Linked DNA regions of Homo sapiens: region 1 is linked to region 2. The links come from fine-mapping of genetic effects on gene expression. A gene starts in region 2. The other region holds a variant in brackets. All regions are shown on one strand. Distances are from middle to middle. Region 1 has its middle 8.4 kb from the start of LINC02130. Region 2 holds the start of NTAN1 (N-terminal asparagine amidase).

The links.
Region 1: its variant is fine-mapped to the expression of NTAN1 in sigmoid colon (GTEx, PIP above 0.99).

Annotation. Positions count from the first base shown.
Region 1 is chr16:14,373,885-14,383,440 of GRCh38, forward strand. No RefSeq gene overlaps it. Among named protein-coding and RNA genes, the nearest start is that of LINC02130, 8.4 kb to the left of the region's middle. RefSeq lists a silencer at 433-608 and an enhancer at 1,955-2,455. The variant A/G (reference allele first, on the strand shown) is at 4,508.
Region 2 is chr16:15,051,817-15,061,372 of GRCh38, forward strand. NTAN1 (N-terminal asparagine amidase) reads right to left here and starts at 4,258. Exons shown (of 10, transcript NM_173474.4): 1 at 4,075-4,258. The coding sequence starts at 4,155. RRN3 (RNA polymerase I transcription factor RRN3) reads right to left here. Exons shown (of 18, transcript NM_018427.5): 18 at 8,217-9,556. It also overlaps a transcript of PDXDC1 not described here. RefSeq lists a silencer at 3,629-3,813.

The DNA of each region.
Region 1 (9,556 bases), 680 kb before region 2:
GATCATAGCTCACTGTAGCCTCGAACTCCTGGGCTCCAGTCACCCTCCCACCGCAGCACCCCGAGTAGCTGGGACTACAGGCACGTACAACCCCACCCAACTAATTTTTGTAGAGATATGATCTGGCTGTATTGCCCGGGCTGGTCTTAAACTCCTGGGCTCAAGCCTCAAGCCATCCTCCCTCCTCGGCTTCCCAGAGTGTTGGGATTACAGGCATGAGCCACCACGCCCAGCCTAGGAGGGATTGTCATTTCAGCTATTCAGTCCCTGCCGCCCACTCTGCACCAGGCCCAAGGAGGAGCTGGGGACAGAGGTGAATATGGCACACTCTCTGTTCCCAAGGAGCCAAGTCAGCCAGGGGAGACGGAAAAGGACAGCCTTGTGTGACCAGTGCTGGGACCCCAGCCACGCACAGGGGCTGCAGAAATCCATAGGAGAGCATTTTCTCCCGACCTGGAGGAGGTGACACCCTGATTCTCGCCTGATTCTCTTTAACCACAGCTAATGCTTTGAGATGGATTACATCCCACTTTGCAGAAGAGGAAACAGATGCGGAGAGGTAACAGCAATGCCTAGTGAGGGCCAGGGAGGGGATTTGAACCCAGGGCTTCCAACTCCATCATTCCCAGAAAGCACTTTGGGAAATGACTGTTTCTTCTGTCCAGGGAGCCTCTTGTCACACTCAGCCAACTCATGTCAGGCACCAGAGCCAATGTCAGGCCTCCTGCTCAGGCCCCAGTCAACCCCGTCTGCTGGGAGATTTTCTCCCGCAGAGGTCACAAGTTCACAGGACCCAAGCCCAAAGCGGGAGGCACAGACAGCAGCCCTGGGGTTCTCCCAGTAGTCGGAAACGGGCTGGCTGCCTCTGGGCTCACACTGGGATCATCAGAGCAGCAGCTCAGGCTCGGATGGCCAGAATTAGGGTGGGTTGGGGTCATGGAGGGAAGAAGGCCCCGGAGATCTGATGGCTCCTAGCCTGAGGCTCTCTGTGTTTGGGCATGAACCTATGATACAGTTTGTCAGTGTCTCCACCCAAATCCCATCTTGAATTGTAGCTCCCATAACCCAGCGAGAGGTAACTGAATCACGGGGGTGGGTCTTTCCCCTGCTGTTCTCATGAGAGTGAATAAGTCTCATGAGATCTGATGCTTTTATAAAGGGGAGTTCCCATGCACACACTCTCTCGTGCCCGCCACCATGTAAGATGTGACTTTGCTCCTCCTTGGCCTCCCAAACTGCTGGGATTACAGGCGTGAGCCACTGCGCCTGGCCAGCTACATGGTTTCTTTTTGGAGCGATGGAAATGTGTAAGATTAGTTTGGGGTGATGGTTGCAAAATGACATAGATTTACTAAAACTCATAGGATTGAACACTTCAGATGAGGGAATTTTATGGTATGTAAAGTATGTCTCACTAAAGCTGTTGAAATGAAGGCAGCCTCCCAGGGCCCAGAGAGGTATCTAAAGACTCTGGTTATGCCAGCCGCGGTGCCTCACACCCGTAATCCCAGCATTTTGGAAGGCCAAGATGGGAGGATTGCTTGACTCGAAGAGTTCAAGACCGCCCTGGGCAACATAGCAAGACCCTGTTTCTTTATAGTTTAAAAAAAGACAAAAAAATAAGGACCCCGGTTTGAAATGCATTAAAAATTAGAAATAGAAAAAAAATTAAAAATAAAGACTCCCAGCCTGGTGTGGTGGCTCACGTCTGTAATCCCAGCACTCTGGGAGGCCAAGACAGGAGGATCACTTGGGGTCAGAAGTTCAAGACCAGCCTGGCCAACATGGCGAAACCCCGTCTCTACTAAAAATATAAAAATTAGCTGGGTGTGGTGGCACGTGCCTGTAATCCCAGCTACTCGGGAGGCTGAGGCAGGAGAATCACTTGAACCCGGGAGGCGAAGGTTGCAGTGAGCTTTTGCACTGCAGCAGAACAAGACTTCCTCTCAAAAAAAGAGACTCTTCTAGACAGACAGACCCTGCCTGAGCACATGACCTGGCCAGGGGGCCTTCCTACATGTCCTTGTCCTAAAGCAAGCTGTAGGTACCCTCTTCTTGGGGCAGCCGTGGGCAGGACTTTGCCCAGCTATTCCTCCCTCCCCACCAGTCCCTCTGAGGACAGGTCCCCAGAGAGAGGCAGGCAGGAGTTCCAAGGAGGGAAGGGGCCCTGTTGTTCGAGTAATAAGCTCATTCTGATGCTCCAGGAGCCTCCTGGGGATGGCAGCCATGGTTAATCAGCCAGATGGCTTGGGCAACATGAACTGACGTTGGTGCCAGCTGTGTGAGGGGCACAGGGCAGGGGGGCCAGGCGGCTGGCAGTATGCCCCCTTCCCACTTTTTTTCTCCCCTGGGATCAGAGAAAGGAGGCCTCTTGCCATCAACATGGAATCTCCACCCCCAGGTTCTTCAAACAGAGGCAGACCCCTCTACGGCTGAAATATCAGAGGGCAGAGAGCGCCACGTGCACCCCAGGCCCCCACCAGCTCGGGGACAAGGGGCATTGGCAGTGCAGATTCATGGTTACAGTCACAGAGCCTGGAGTCAGGCCACCTGGCTTCAGATCCCAGGTGGGTCACTATGAGGCTGTGTGACATCCAGCAAGTGTTTTTCTTGTTGTTGAGACAGAGTCTCGCTCTGTCGCCCAGGCTGGAGTGCAGTGGTGCGATCTCGACTCACTGCAGCCTCCATCTCCCAGGTTCAAGCGATTCTCCTGCCTCAGCCTCCGGAGTAGCTGGGATTATAGGTGTGCACCACCACACCTGGGTAATTTTTGTTCTTTTAGTAGAGACGGGGTTTTGACATGTTGGCCAGGCTGGTCTCAAACTCCTGCCCGCTAGTGATTCACCCGCCTTGACCTCCCAAAGTGCTGAGCCACCAAGCCCAGCCCCAAGTCTTTTTTTTTTTTTTTTTTGAGATGGAGTCTTGCTCTGTTGCCCAGGTTGCAATGCAGTGGCACAATCTCAGCTCACTGCAGCCTCCATCTCCCAGGTTCAAGCAATTCTCCTGCCTCAGCCTCCTGAGTAGCTGGGATTACAGGCACCCGCCACCATGCCTGGCTAATTTTGTATTTTTAGTAGAGACGGGGTTTCACCATGTTGGCCAGGAGAGTATCGAACTCCTGACCTCGTGATCTGCCCACCTCTACCTCCCAAAGTGCTGGGATTACAGGCCCCAGCAAGTCTTATAATGTCTGAGCCCTCACTTTCTTATCCAAAAAAGTGGCCATAATAATAACAGTGCCCTCCTGGCAGGCTACAGCCAGGATGAAAGCAGTGGGCATAGAACTTTCTGGGATCCTCATCATCCTCCTGAGCTCCTCCCAATAGCGGAACTGGCACGCGGCAGAGCTCAGAGGGTGGATCTCCAGGGTAAAGGGGCCAACAGGTCCCAAGCAATTCGTTAGGCTTCATGGCTGGACGGGCGGCCACTTCTTTTGTTGCAGCTTTTTTCTAAAACCCTGAGATTTCCCCTAACAGGGAAGTAAATGTAGAGAATTCAGAATGAGCCCTCATGTTCAACGTGCAGCATCAATGGAAGACAGCCTGGAGGTCCCTCAAACAAACAAACTTAGAATCACCCTGTGACCCAGCAATTCCACTCCCAGGCATATGCCCAGCAGAATTGAAAACATCTGTGTACACAAAAACTTATGCATGAGAGTTCACAGCAGCATGACTGGTAACAGCCAAAGAGGGGCAACAACCCAGATGTCCAGAGAAGTAACTGGTCTGTCCACACAATGGAGTATTACTCAGCCATTAACAAATGAAGTCCTAGCCATTAATAAACAAACAAAAAAAAGACTTGCTGGGGCTGGGCTTGGTGGCTCAGCACTTTGGGAGGTCAAGGCGGGTGAATCACTAGCGGGCAGGAGTTTGAGACCAGCCTGGCCAACATGTCAAAACCCCGTCTCTACTAAAAGAACAAAAATTACCCAGGTGTGGTGGTGCACACCTATAATCCCAGCTACTCTGGAGGCTGAGGCAGCTACTCTGGAGGCTGAGGTGTGGTGGCTCACACCTGTAATCCCAGCACTTTGGGAGGCCGAGGTGGGCTGATCACTTGAGGTCAGGAGTTTGAGACCAGCCTGGTCAACATGGTGAAACCCTGTCTCTACTAAAAATACAAAAAATTAGCCAGGTGTGGTGGTGCATGCCTGTAATCTCAGCTACTGAGGAGGCTGAGGCAGGAAAATTCCTTGAACCGGGGAGGCGGAGGTTGCAGTGAGCTGTGATTATGCCACTGCATTCCAGCCTGGGCAAAAAGAGCAAAACTCTGTCTCCAGAAAAAAAAAAAAAAAAAATTAAGTACTTATGAACGTACATCTGGCAGGAAAAAAAAAAAGTAGTGCTGACACAGGAATGAGCCTTGAAAACATTATGCTAAATGCAAGATACCAGACACAAAAGTCACATGTTATTTGATCCCATTCATATGAAGAAGAAAAAAAAGGGATCCTGGAATTTGGACATGGGAAAGTCTAACGGGTTCCACTCTGGCCACGGAG[A/G]TGAGCTTACTGAGGCTGGAAGGGGAAGAGATTTGCCCTGTGTCACTTGGATATCCTGTTACCTGATCGCCTGAAGGAAGGGTGTGGTTGACCAGAGCTGGGCTTACCCTAGGTGGGAGGAGCTGGGGAAACAGAAAGGCCTGTCTCTTGGCTATCAGGGGAGCTTTATGCAGAAGCCCTGGTCTGCACGCTGATCCTTCTAGAAGCCCGAGGTCCTTCATCTTTGCCAAGACCAAGGAGCGGGAGGGAGACATGAGACCATCCCCATCGCTGTGTATTGAAGATGGACCAGATACCAGGCACGCTGCACAATCCCCCCATTTTGCAGTGGAAGAAAGAGATGGGGAGGGGTACACGGGCCCACCTGGCTGAGGCCACAGGGCAGGCAGGACACAGCTTGGGGTGCAGCTGGGTTCATGTGGTCCCAGACGATGAGTTGCCCATTGAGGAAAAGGTTGACTCAGAAAGGGCTCCGCACCCCCAGGGATTCCTGCACTGAGCTGGTTAGTTGAGAAACAGAGTGGCAGGACAGTGAGTCACAAGGCTTCGTGAACCCACGCGGAGTCCCCCAGCCCTCTCCACCTGCCCCAGGCCTTCTGGGAGTTTTTACAACAACCCATGGGATTGGGGGCCCTTTTCCTTCCCGGGCCCAGCTCCTTCCTGGTAGCCAGCCCCGTGATGCCCCACCTCTCCTGTCCACTCCCCTCCTTGAAGCCACTCAGAGGCCTGGGGGCAATCTTGTCTCTGCACTTCTTCTCCCAAGTCCTGGGCAAGTCCCCAGGCTCACTCTCCATGCCTGCCCAGTGAGCCTCCTGGGCCATCGGAAGGAGCCCTCAAGAATGTGCAGTGGGGTTGGACAGCTCTCCTGTCATGCTCCCTCAGCGCCACAAGGGACCAGAGTTACCCGGTCCCCACCCCAACATCTCCATCCCAGGACACACGTCAAGGCCTCGGCCAAGGAGTGAGAAGAAAATGTGAGCTCAAAGCAAGCGGGCATCTTTGAATTGAGCCTGGATCTCTTTTTTTGAGATGGAGTCTCACTTTGTCATCCGGGCTGGAGCATAGTGGCGCAATCCCAGCTCACTGCAACCTCTGCCTCCTGAGTTCCTGGGTTCAGGCGATTTTCCTGCCTCAGCCTCCCGAGTAGGTGCCAGGCACCTGCCACCACGCCTGGCTAATTTTTTTGTATTTTTAGTAAAGACGGGGTTTTACCACGTTGGCCAGGCTGGTCTTGACCTCCTGACCTCAAGTGATCTGCCCTCGACCTCCCAAAGTGCTGGGATTACAGGCAAGCCTGGGTCTTTCTGGAGATCCTGGGAGGGAGGAGGAGAGGGAGGACCTTGGGCCACAGGTAGGACACACCGCCTAATGCATCTATCCAGGGCCAAGGCGGGGTCAGGATGAGAGGGACAGGCCTCCAAACAAATCAGAGTTACCCTTGGCTCTGAATCTAAGTCCAGAGGGACTTGGCGGAGAATGGGGAGGACCTCTCAGACAGACCCTCACTGTCCCTCTAAGTAGCTGCCTCCCCACCCAACCCCCAGGCCCATCTTACCAAACCAGAGCCCACCAGGCTACTCTGCTTCTGTTCATATAAAAGCTTCAGTGGCTTTCCAGTGCTCGGCACTGGGAAAGAGGCCCAGCCCTGCCTCCCTCCCCAAGACCAAAGCTGGGACACTCCTTCACTCCCATCCTTGCTCCAGCCATAGGGAGCTGGCCCTGAGCCCCGTCATGATGCCTCCTAGGTCTGCCACGTTCTGTTCCCCCACTGCCCTTTCTCCTCTGCCCAGAAAATTCTATCCAACCTTCAAAACTCAACTCCAACACTGCAGCAGTCACCCTTGAGAGCCTTAGGGACCAAGCCTTTATCATCTTTCTATTTTTGGCACTGAAAACAGTACCTGGGCAGAAGGTATCGCCCGAACGTGTCTTCTGAACGGCTGGGCCACGGGGTTTGCCTTGAACTAAAACCTTACAAAGGGGGTCGGTCCAACCTCCCAACTCTCCAGTCTGGGGGAATTCAGAGATTCTACAGTGGAGACTGGGCAGGAACTATAACAACGTGAATGGCAGAGGGATAGACTGGAAGAGAGTCCAGAAAGAGACCTGAGCCTCCATGAGAACTCAGTCTGCAGTAAAGGAAGCATATCAAAGTGGGCGGCAAAGGACTTGTCATTCAAAATGGCCAGTGATTTGGAAAATGAGCAGAGTTCGATGCCTACTTCACCTGGAAACAAAAGCCAATGGTTAAATGTTTCAATGCAAAGACACAGAAAAGCAAAAAGAAAAAGTACACAGCACCGGAGACAAGAAACCATGAAGCTCCCTTATGGTAAAATGGGCCACATACGAATCTTACATTCCTGTTCTTTTTAAGGCTGTGTTCAAAAATGAAAGGCAAAGGACAAATTAAAAAAATATTTATAACATTTGATAAAGTGTTATCATTTCTTATCATTTAAAATGGAAAAGACTAGGCACGGTGGCTCATGCCTGTAATCCCACCACTTTGGCAGGCTGAGGCGGGAGGATCACTTTAGGTCAGGAGTTTGAGACCAGCCTGGCCAACATGGTGAAACCCCATCTCTACTAAAAATACAAAAATTAGCCAGGCGTGGTGGGCGCACCTGTAGTCCCAGCTACTCAGGAGGCTGAGGTAGGAGAATTGCTTGAACCCAGGAGGCAGAGGTTGCTGTGAGCTGAGATGGAGCCACTGTACTACAGCCTGGGTGACAGAGCAAGACTCCATCTCAAAACAAAACAAAACAAAACAAAAAACAAACAAAAAAATACAAAAATTAGCCACGCAGGGTGGCATATTTTAAGGACAAAAATAAGTACATAGGCATCGTAAATATCACCCACATTTGTAGTTTTGTTTTTTTTATTGAGGTGAAACTCAGACATGAAATTTGCTGTTTTAAAGTTTACTATTCAGTGGCATTTAGTACATTCAAGATGTGTTGTCCCAGACTGAGGGAGGAGGATCTCTTGAGCCCAGGAAGTAAAGGTTGCAGTCAGCTGAGATTGTACCATTGCACTCCACCCTGGGCAACAGAATGAGACCCTCATCTCAAATAAAAATAGGCCGGATGCAGCGGCTCATGCCTGTAATCCTAGCACTTTGGGAGGCTGAGACAGGCGGATCACCTGAGGTCAGGAGTTTGAGACCAGCCTGACCAACATGGAGAAACCCTATCTCTACTAAAAATACAAAATTAGCCATGTGTGGTGCCACGCACCTGTAATCCCAGCCACTCGGGAGGCTGAGGCAGGAGAAACGCTTGAACCCGGGAGGTAGAGGTTGCACTGAGCTGAGATTGCACCATTGCACTCCAGCCTGGGCAACAAGAGTGAAACTCCATCTCAAAAAATAATAATAATAATAATAAAAAAAAGATAAAAAGCAAATCCCAAAGGTGAATACAATACAGAAACAAGTAACCTAATTGCATATCAAATTGATAACATAATCAAAATGAGAAAACTTATTTATTTATTTATTTTTTGAGATAGAGTCTCACTCTATGGCCCAGGCTGGAGTGCAGTGGCACAATCTCAGCTCACTGCAGCCTTCACCTCCCAGGTTCAAGCGATTCTCCTGCCTCAGCCTCCCGAGTAGCTGGGATTACAGGCGCCTGCCACCACACCTGGTTAATTTTTGTGTTTTTCATAGAGACAGGGTTTCACCATGTTGGCCAGGCTGGTCTCGAACTCCTGAACTCAAGTAATCCGCCCACCTCGGCTTCCAAAGCGCTGAGATTACAGGAGTGAGCCACTGTGCCTGGATGAAAACTTATTTCTGTTAATACTACCTGTTGAACACAGTGATCTTACTGTACCTCCTCAGGGTGATATATATTCAGTGACATATTTTAAGGACAAAAAGAATGACATAGGCATCTTAAATAGCCCCCATGTCTGTGTGTGTGTGTGTGTGTGCAAGCGCGTGTGTGTTTTGAGACGGAGTCTTGCTCTGTCACCCAGCCTGGAGAGCAGTGGTGCGACCTCGGCTCACTGCAACCTCCGCCTCCCGGGTTCAAGCGATTCTCCTGCCTCAGCCTCCCACGTATCTGGGACTATAGGCGCGTGCCACCACGCCCAGCTAATTTTTGTATTTTTAGCAGAGACGAGGTTTCACCATATTAGCCAGGATGGCGTCAATCTCTTGGCCTCGTGATCCACCCGCCTCAGCCTCCCAAAGTGCTGGGATTACAGGCGTGAGCCACCGCGCCTGGCCTGTCTTCTTTTTTTTAATTGAGGTGAAACTCACATGAAATTAATTAAAGTTTTAAAGTGTACAACTCGGTGGCATTTAGGACATTGAAGATGTTGTGCAACTATCACCACTATCTATCATCACTATCTGGAACTTTTTATTGCCTCAAAAGAACACCTCATCCCCATGAATCAGCCACTCCTTACTCCACCCTTCTCCCAGGCCCTGAAAACCACCAATCTGCTTTATATCTTTTGTAGGTTTGTTTTTAGAGGTTGTTGCTATTACAATTTTTGAATAATTGTATACTTAGTGTAGGATAAATACTAATGTTTTTAGGGACCTAGATTTTCAGTGTGTGAAAAAAGAGATATAAATATAAAAGTAGTTATGATGAGGCCAGGTGTGGTGGCTCATGCCTATAATCCCTGCACTTTGGGAGGCTGAGGTGGGAGGATCACTTGAGCCCAGGATTTTGAGACCAGTCCAGGCAACACAGCAAAACCTAGTCTCTACCAAAAAAACAGCCATGGTGATGCACACCTGTATTCCCAGCTACTTGGGAGGCTGAGGTGGGAGGATCTCCTGAGCCCAGGTAGAGGCTGCAGTGAGCTGTGATTGTGCCATTGTACTCTAGCCTGGGCAACAGAGCGAGACCCTATCTCAAAAAATAATAAAAATAAGTGCAGTTAGGATGAACAGCTGAACAGCCATTTTTATACCAATATTCATAAGAGCATCATTCACAATAAGTCAAAAGGTAGAAATAACACCCGTGTCTATTATCAGATGAATGATAAACAAAATATGGTATATAAAGACAATAGAAT
Region 2 (9,556 bases):
CAGCCTCCTTTGCAGTAGCTGGAACCACAGGCGCACGCCACCACACTTGGCTAATTTTTGCTCTTTTAAGTAGTAAAAAGAGTTTAGCCAAACTTCCCTTCTTTGGAAAACCACACAGTCCTACTTTATAAATTCATATGCAAGTAGTCCCAGTTTTCTTAACCTCTAATATGCTCTAGACACTAATATTTGCTTAAAAAAAAAAAAGCTTTTCCCTCAGTCCCTCATCCCTATTTCCCAGTTCCTATTCAATGGCAGTATTCTCTTAACCCAGTGACCAGCAGATTTTCTGAAAAAGGCCAGACAGTAAATATTTGGGGTTCTACAAGGCCGCAGTCTCTGTCACAATTGCTCAACTCTGCTGTTATTATGAAGTGAAAGCAGCCATAGACAATACAGATGTGGCTGTGTTCCAATAAAACTTTATTTATAGGTGACACCGAAGTTTTAATTTCAATACCATTTCCCATGTTACAAAATATTATTTTGATTTTTCTCAACCTTTGAGAAATATAAAGACCATTCTTGGCCTATAGGCTATACATAAGCAGGGTCCGGCCCATGAGCTGTGGCTTGTTGACCTGTGTCTTAGCCAATCACCTAGCTGTGACCTGGGGGATGATCATGTGACCCTCACCCCTGCTGTCCTGTTTATCAATTCTTCCTTTATAAACAGGAGAGGGGCATGAAGGTGATCTGTGAACTGTAAAGCACAATGCTATATAAGAAATTATGAGGCCCAACACACTGGCTCACGCCTGTAATCCCAGCACTTTGGAGGCCGAGGCGAGATGATCGCTTGAGGTCAGGAGTTTCAGACCAGCCTGGCCAACATGTTGAAGCCCCATCTCTACTAAAAATACAAAAATTAGCCGGGCATGGTGGCAGATGTCTGATACTCAGGAGGCTGTGGCAGGAGAATCACTTGAACCTGGGAGGCAGAGGTTGTAGTGAGCCAAGATCGTGCCATTGCACTCCAGCCTGGGTGACAGAGCAAGGCTCTGTCTCTCAAAAAAAAAATAAATAAATAAATAATAAAAGCAGGAACTAAGCTACGCTGCGAGCATCTTGTAGACTCTGTGGAACCGTATTACCCAAGATGTTGCAGGACTGGTTACCGAGTACCCAGTGACTGGTTAAGAGTGACTAAGGGAGGGCTCTAAACAGCTCTGGCCAAAGGAACTTCATGCTGGGATGGCCACCGTCTATATTCACACTGTCTCATTAGTAGCCATGCTGTCTGCTCGGCACTTGAAATGTGGCTACTGCAACTGAGGAACTGAGTTTCAATTTTATCTAATTTTAATTGATTTTTAAGTTAAATCCTAAGTAACCAGATGGCTCGTGGCTACTGTACTGAATAGCGCAGCTCCAGAGTCAAGGGCAGGCTGCCAGGGTTCCAATCCTGGCTTCACCACTCCCAGGATGTGGGGCCTGGGGCCAGTTTCCCAGCCTCTCTGTGCCCCACAGTCCTCATCTGTAAAATGGGAATAGCAGTAACTCTTGCTGTGGTGCTTGGCAGCTTCCACTGTATGACTTATTGTTATTATTTGCTAGTCATAGCTACACACAGGCTTCTAACTGTTGGTACTCCATACTCAGAACACATCGTTACATGAAAAAGACACATTATAAAACAACATATAGTAAGCTATCATTTTTTTAAAAAAAGTAAATTATATACAAAGAAAAACCTTCATTAGGACTTTCACCAAACTAAAGAATGGTTGTAGTCATACTTTTTTTTCTGTATTATTATATTTTGCTTTCCTACAAAGAGGACACCCTGTTTTATTATATAAAAATAATCCAGGCCAGGTGGAGTGGCTCACACCGGTAATCCCAGCACTTTGGGAGGCCGAGACGGGCAGATCACTTGAGGTCAGGAGTTCAAGAACAGCCTGGCCAACATGGTGAAAACCCGTCTCTACTAAAAATAAAAAAATTAGCTGGGTGTGGTGGCATGCACCTGTAATCCCAGCTACTTGGGAGGCTGAGGCAGGAGAATCGCTTGAACCTTGGGAGACAGAGGTTGCAGTGAGCCGAGATTGTGCCACAGCAATCCAGCCTGGGCCACAGAACAAAACTAAGTCTCAAAAAAACCAACCAACCAAACAAACAAACAAAAAACCCAACCTTTAATGTCTCCCTGTTGCTAAGTAGGTGAAAGGTCCATCTAAGCCCCTTGGTCATTTGGTCATCTGGGTACAATCCACCCCTGTAAGGTTACTTTCCATGCTTCCCCTCCTCACCCGGGCTGCTCCGGAGAAACTGGCCAGGACACCCACCCACTGGGCCCTTCCCCTCCTGCCCGCCGCGCCCCAGGCGGCTTGCCCAGCTGCGATGCCCTCACCCTTCTTCTCCTTTTCAAATCTCTCTCGTGCCTGCATCCTTCTTCACTTACACTGCCGCAAATCAAAGTGATCGCCCCCTTCCAAAGTTCCTGTAACACAAACTGGTCCCCAGTACACAGCCTTTCTAGGACATGTCTTCTTAAATAGGCCAAAACCTTCCTTCGAGAGAAGCAGCCCCGGTATGTCACCAAATCTCCCTCCACACTTAAGTGTGCAGCCCGGGACACCCATCTAACTTTCTATCACGGACATTTTCAAACAGACATAAAAGTAGAGCATCCCCTAAATTCTTCAGGCGGCTGAAATTATTTTTCCTTGGTGAGTCCTACTCTTGACTTCGCTAGCTAACAGGACAGTAACACAACGCAAGGATAAAGTGACACGCCACCACGCCTAGCTCGGTGCATGTTGGCTAACAGACGATGGTCGGTCCTGAAATGCAAGCTGAGAATCACACAGAGCTGTCTGCCTTCTCCCCGTCAGTAAGTCCTTGTCACCCTTCAGAACACGTTCAGGGGTCATTTTGTGACCTCATTTATGCAGCAAATCTTTACTGAGCGCCAATTCTATGCCAGGGACCGTCCTACACTCTGAGGATACAAAAGTGAGGACACTACTCTTATCTGCCTTCAGGAGGCTTACATTCTGGCGACAGACCAATAGAGAACAAACAAGCAAACAAAATAATCACAAACTGTACAGCTGTGACAGATGAAACCTCTAAATGCCTTCCCCAACCCAACACACTTGGTCAGGTTCCTGTGCTTCCCATCTCAGAGTGAAAGGGGACGCTTTTTCTTTATGGTACTTAACAGTTTATAGTATCTGAGCCTTCTTCATCAGAAACCATTCTCCCTTCTAGACTATAAACACTCCGAGGGCAGGGACAGTGATCAGTACGTTGCCCAACAGATATTAGGGGCTCGATATTTGACTCTCAAATCAAGGAACTGATTGATTCCCCTTTAACAGGATCTATGGCAAATAGGACGTCTGCCCCCGCCGCCACGCCCCGCTCTTTTTAAAACCTGAGAACCCCCTTGCCAACAGTCCCTGCATAAGCGTGGACAAGAGTTCAGAGATCTATTTGAGCACAAAAGCAGAAAAAACAAAAACAAAACCCGTGCATCAGGGCGTGGTCCTATGGCCCAGCTGCGGAAAGCAGGGCTCTCTCTCCCGGCTAAAAATAACTCGGCGCCCTACGCCCCGGGGGTAGGGGAGAGAGAGGAGGAAGGACTGGGGGTCCCCGCCAAGATCCCCCAGGCCAAACGCTCTCCGAAGCCCACCCTGGAATAACCTCCTGCTTCACGGGGACGCAAGGACGAAGCAACGTTCACCGCAGGCTGCGGGTCCCCGAAGGCGGGCGGCCGGATTTGCCTAAACGGACCCAGCCCTATGGGGGCTGCAGCCGCCCCGTCGGGGAATGGGGGTCCCGGCGTGTCCCCGAGCCGCAGTGCTGTGCGACCTTGGGCAAGTCACCTAACCTCTCTGGGCCCCCGTCCCCTCCCTTGTCAGAGAGTGGCCTCCGGGGCAGCCCGCTGAAGTCTAAAGAAGGCAAAAACTCCCCGACCCCTCAAGGGGAAGACGCGAGCCGACGGCCGGGGCTCCGGATGTGCCAACAGCGCCAAGTTTCAAGTCTGTGTCGCGTGAGGGGGGCGCTAGCCCGCCCTGCAGCTTCCCCTCGGGCCCGCCCCGAAGCCCCGCGCCGCGCCCCACTCACCTCCAAAGGCGGGTGGGCTCGGACGAGGTCCCCGGCTGACTGCGGCAGCCGCACTCGCCGCCCCTCGACGAGCAGCGGCATCGCGGAGGCGGCCGCCCAGGCAGGCCCAGGGAGGCGGCGGCCCCCCGCTTTGCAGCCCCGGGCCGCCCGCCGCCCCCGCCCCTCGGGCCGCGCGTCCCGCCTCGTCCTGCCCCGCCCCACCGCGGGCGCTGCCGGGAAGTGGAGTCCAGGCGGAGGCGGTGCCGGCCGAAGAGACTGGAGAAATCCAGGACATGGCCGCAAGGCCTCACGGGAAATGTAGTCCAAAGCCAGGAAGTGGCCCTGGAAGCAGCGCGCGGCCCGCCTCCTCCGCAAGGGGCGCTGGGAAGTGTAGTCCCAAAAGCGTGGGAGTGAAGGAGCGGGGAAAGGAGAGCTGCCAGGGAGCAGCTGCACCAGCCAAGAGAGCCTCCGGGCGAGTTCCTGGGGCGGGTTCTGGCTCCGACTGCTGCGCTTTAGGTCATTGCTCCACGCTTCCCAGGTGTGTGACCTTCCACAAGCTTGAGTTTGGGACCCTGCTGTGCAGCTCCGTAGGATTGCATTCAATGAGTAATAATAAACCTAATCAGGCGGGCACGGTGGCTCACGCCTGTAATCCCAGCACTTTGGGGGGCCGAGGCAGGAGGATCGCTTGAGGCCAGGAGTTCGAGACCAGCCTGGGCAACATAGTGAGACCCACCCTCCCCCATACCCTCGTCTCTGCCAAAAATTTAAAAATTAACTGGGCACGGTGGCATGCACCTGTGATCCCAGCCACTCTGTAGGCTGAGGCGGGAGGATCTCTTGACCCCAGGAGTGGGAGGCTGCAATGAGCTATGTTTGGGCACTGCAGAGGGACACTCTGTTTCTGAAAATAATAAAAATAAATGTAAACGGTCTTAAACTGAGAAAATAGATCCTGAACTGTGCTAGCCCCACGTACTAAAGAGATCATCGATTAACACGTCGTGATTGGAATGCAATAGGCCACTCACAGGTGGGCTGGGAACCGTGGGGGAAGGATTTGCGGATACTGACTGCAGAGCCCCTAATCTGAGGACAGGTCCCCAAGGTGAGAGGCGTCTCACCGTGGAGCTCTCTTCTAAAACTTGGAAATATTGCTCAAATTCATCCAACTCTGCAGCACATTAACAAAAAGTAATTTTACAAAAGATACAGAGGAGCCACATGATACAGCAGAAACTTTATTAGAATTTTATCATCTGTATTCATCGTCTTCTTTCATAAATCTCCCCCTCAGCTTACACACCCCGTTCAACAAAAATACCAGGAAATTTACTAAAGAAATGACTGTAGAAGATGGTGTTCCCATCGCCAGGTTACCCAACTTCTCACCCAAAATAACTCTATTTCTAGCTACCAGGAAATTATTTCTCTGTATTATTACACCTACATTTCTCATTTGTCCTTACAAATGTAGGAGCTACTATCAACACCTCATTTGTCATTTGTCCTCACAAATGTAGGAGCTACTATCAACACCTCCGTTATAACAGATACAGTAACTTGCTCAAAGTGGTAGAAATAAGTAGTAGAACGAAGACTGAACCTAGCTTTGCATGATTCCAAAGGCAGTGCTCTCCATCACTATAAGATGCTCCTAGACTGTACTGTAAACAACTCATTCTAATGCAGGTGACATTAAGTAAGTCCCAACTAGGAAGCTCGGAGCTAAAAACAGGGTTTGAAACCAGGGTGATCAATGACCAGCAGGCTGGCCTGGAGCAAGTTACTTAACTTCCCTGAACTGGTTTTGTAGAATAGCATGTTTGTTTCACCTGGTACATACTAAACACTAAAGATAGCTATTATTGGAATTGCAGAGCAAAGAGTAGTCAATCAAAGTGAGGCATTTGGAAGTGCAAAGGTGAAGAACAAGGTTCTGTGGGTTCTGCCTGGGGCTGGTGCAGTTTGCCTAACTGGTTTTTCACTTTTGGGTGATCTTTTTTCAAGTAATCTCAGGTTATCAATCTCCTAGGCTGAGTACTGTGTTAAAGGACTAAATGAGCCAGATAACAAGCAGGAAACCACTCCCCTACCTCTCTTCCCACCCAGCTCCACAAATTTTGGTCTACAGGCAATGAGGAAGCAATAGCAGGTGTGTGGCCAGCACTGCGGCTCATGCCTGTAACCCCAGCACTTTGAAAGGCCGAAGGAGGACTCACTTGAGCCCAGAAGTTCGAGACGAGCCTGGACAACACAGGGATCCCTGCTTCTCCAACAAATACAAAAATTAGCTGGGCATGGTGGCAGGCCTGTAGTCCCAGCTACTCGGGAGGATCAATCAAGCCCTAGAGGTCAAGGCTGCAATGAGGCACGACTGTGCCACTGCACTCCTGCCTGGGTGATTACAGCAAGACCGTCTCAAAAAAAAAAGAAAAAGAAAAAGAAAGCACTAATTACAATGTTGGAAAGCCTGTTTCTTTAAGATAGGAAACCAACCTGCCTCACAAGATGGCTGATGGCAAAGTTCAAAGAATATATACAGGGAAATATTTTTTAAATTACACTTTTTTGAGGCCAGACATGGTGGCTCACGCCTGTAATCCCAGCACTTTGGGAGGCCGAGGCGGACAGATTGCTTGAGGTTAGGAGTTCAAGACCAGCCTGGCCAACATAGTGAAACTCCATCTCTACTAAAAATACAAAAATTAGCCAGGCATGGTGGTGCGTACCTGTAGTCCCAGCTACTCAGGAGACTGAGGTGGGCGGATCACTTGAGCCCAGGAGGCGGAGGTTGCAGTTGTTGAGCTGTGATTGCACCACTGCACTCCAGCCTGGGTGACAGAGTGAGACTCTTGTCTCAAAAAAAAGAATGATGAACATTATACAGAACCTTAGTAAATATTTAGTGAAAGGATCCCAATTTGTGTTTCAAATTTTTTAATGTAGAGATGGGGGTCTCACTATGTTGCCCCAGCTGATCTCAAACTCCTGGCTTCAAGAGATCCTTTTGCTGGCCTCCCCAAGTGCTCAGATTACAGGCATGAGCTACCACACCTGGCCCCAAATTATTAGATACATTATAAATCCTACTCAACCATCCAGAGTCAGACTGAAACACACAAAAGCATTTGATGGAAGAAAACATGGTGGAGCTTTGGATGTTCAATTAGTTGAAACAAGAAAAGTATGCAGTTGTACACCAATGAACAGTTCTCAAGGCAGCCTGCACCTTCGAATCACCAGGGGGCTTTAAAAACCATCCATGTCCAGACCCCTCTTCTGGAGACTGATTCAATCAAAGGTTGAGTTGGTGTGTGACGTGAGCCTGGGCATCCTTAGTTTCTCAGCACTCCAAGGGACTGATTCTAGGGCACAGCCAGGGTTAAGAACCACCATCGTAAGCACTGCCCGGCAAGGGAAACACGCTGGTTCCTCCTCTCCAGTTCAGATCTAAGTTGGTACCAGGGAGGTAGGTATTATGGAAGAAATAGAAGTTATCTTTAACCAAAAAAAACTTCCCATGGAAGTGCTTCCTTTCTTGCAAGAAAACAACAGCCATTAACTTGTACATGCATCGAATCCTTAAAGCCTTACACTAGTATCTTATTCCCATTTTACAGTTTAATTAGCGCTCAGAGAGGTTAGGTAACTTGCTCAACGTCAAACAGCTAGCTAGGAAAGGAAGCCCATGGCACTTGGTAAGTTGACTTGTAAAAATTCAGCCACTTCTCATCAAGGAAGACCAAACCAGAGCACACAGACAAAAGGACAGACCCTGGAGACTCCTACAACTGACAGCTTTTTAGTGAAAGGAAAAATTCCCATTGTTGGCATGTAATTTATAAGGAGATTTCACAGTATTTTTCCCCATAGATGTCCCTTCAAAGCATGTAACTTTTTGAAAGAAGTGTCTGCTTCCCTTGGACCTGCTCAAGCCTCAATCACTCTTTGCTGGGTGTGATTAAGGAGAGTCGCGGATACTTCATATAGTGCACACGGAAACCATCCTCACCCCGGCATGCAATGAATTCCATCAAGCTCCCCGCCACACCAGCACTATTTCTCCCTCTTCAACAGCAATGCCTCAGGAGTTTTCCACTGCAAAATGCTTTAATACATTAAATTAAAAAAAAAAAAACAAAACAGAAATTGAAAGAACATGTATTGAGGTACCTTTTATTGGTATAAGAACGTAAGTTCCAGATTAACCATGTCATTGTTTCATTTTCACCATGGATTTTTTTTCACAAACTCCTTTGAAATTAAACAGACTTATATGTAAATGTCTTTCTACATTAAAACTACTTCCCAACCCACAAAGACCCCACTTACTACTAATTTCTGGGGAATTTCGTTTACTCGTTTTATCTAATATTAAAAAATCAACATTTTGCCAGCAGTTAAAAAGACAACCTTAAAGTTCTCAAATTACTTTCCACCAAACCCGGAAAAGAAAACCACCCATATCCAAAACTTTAAAGCAATAAAAATTTCTATTTTCCAAAAAAGTATTTACAGACTGAAATTCAAACTCTACATTGCCATCAATGTAATTATACAAGTGCATACAAAGCCCTGGAAAAGAGGAAGTATTTCATTACAAAATATTTATGATCAAGAAAATATTGCTTGCCTTTAAATAAAGTGGCAGAAAATAAATATGCTTAAAGATGGCCATTTTCACAAGTAAACAAAAAAGTACACATGTAAGAAACAAAGTGAAAATGCTTGAGCTTCAAAATGACTCTAGCAGTGTTTGCACAAATTTGTTTTAAAGCGAGGTCTTCTGAAGACTTCCTCTGTTTAGTTATAAAAATACAAAAAGAGGCTTTAGAGAAGGATTTCACCAAGCCGAATGTGCGATGCACACAGCCATCAGACCAAGACTGCACTAGCAACTTCCACCTATTGTTGTGAGCAAAACCGTACACCAAATAATCTAAAAAAATTTTCCTGTTTCCAACAAAGAAATTCCCAATAACTAAGTGATGCAGATCAAAACTGACTCGATCTAATGGCCACCAAGGAGCAGTTCTAGATCTAAGGGGACACTTGAGAGCCAAGGGGTCAAATCCAATCTCATGTGTTTTACACAAGCCCGAACTCACTTTCAGTCTGTGTGAATTACATCTACCTGGACCTCCATTTTTGTCTTTTAAATCCATTTTTTCGCTGTGCCAAGTATATTACACATCTGATTCTGTTTCCCTATATCCTCTCTCTCTTCCCTATGGGCTTTTATTGGTCTCTGAAGTCCCTGGAGATCTTCAGTGCCAGCTCCAACTCTGTGTCCCAGACCATGTCGGGCCAGCTCTCAGCTTTCCTTCTGTCTTCTCTACACTCCCTTGAAATCCCAACAGACAAATACCAATACAGCAGAAGGTGAACAATGTAGCCAAAATAAACACTTTCTAGTTAAAGTCTTTAAATAGAAGTTTTATCTTAGAGGATTCTTCACTGAAAGCTCATCAGTCAAGTCCTAAGACCATGGATCTGACAA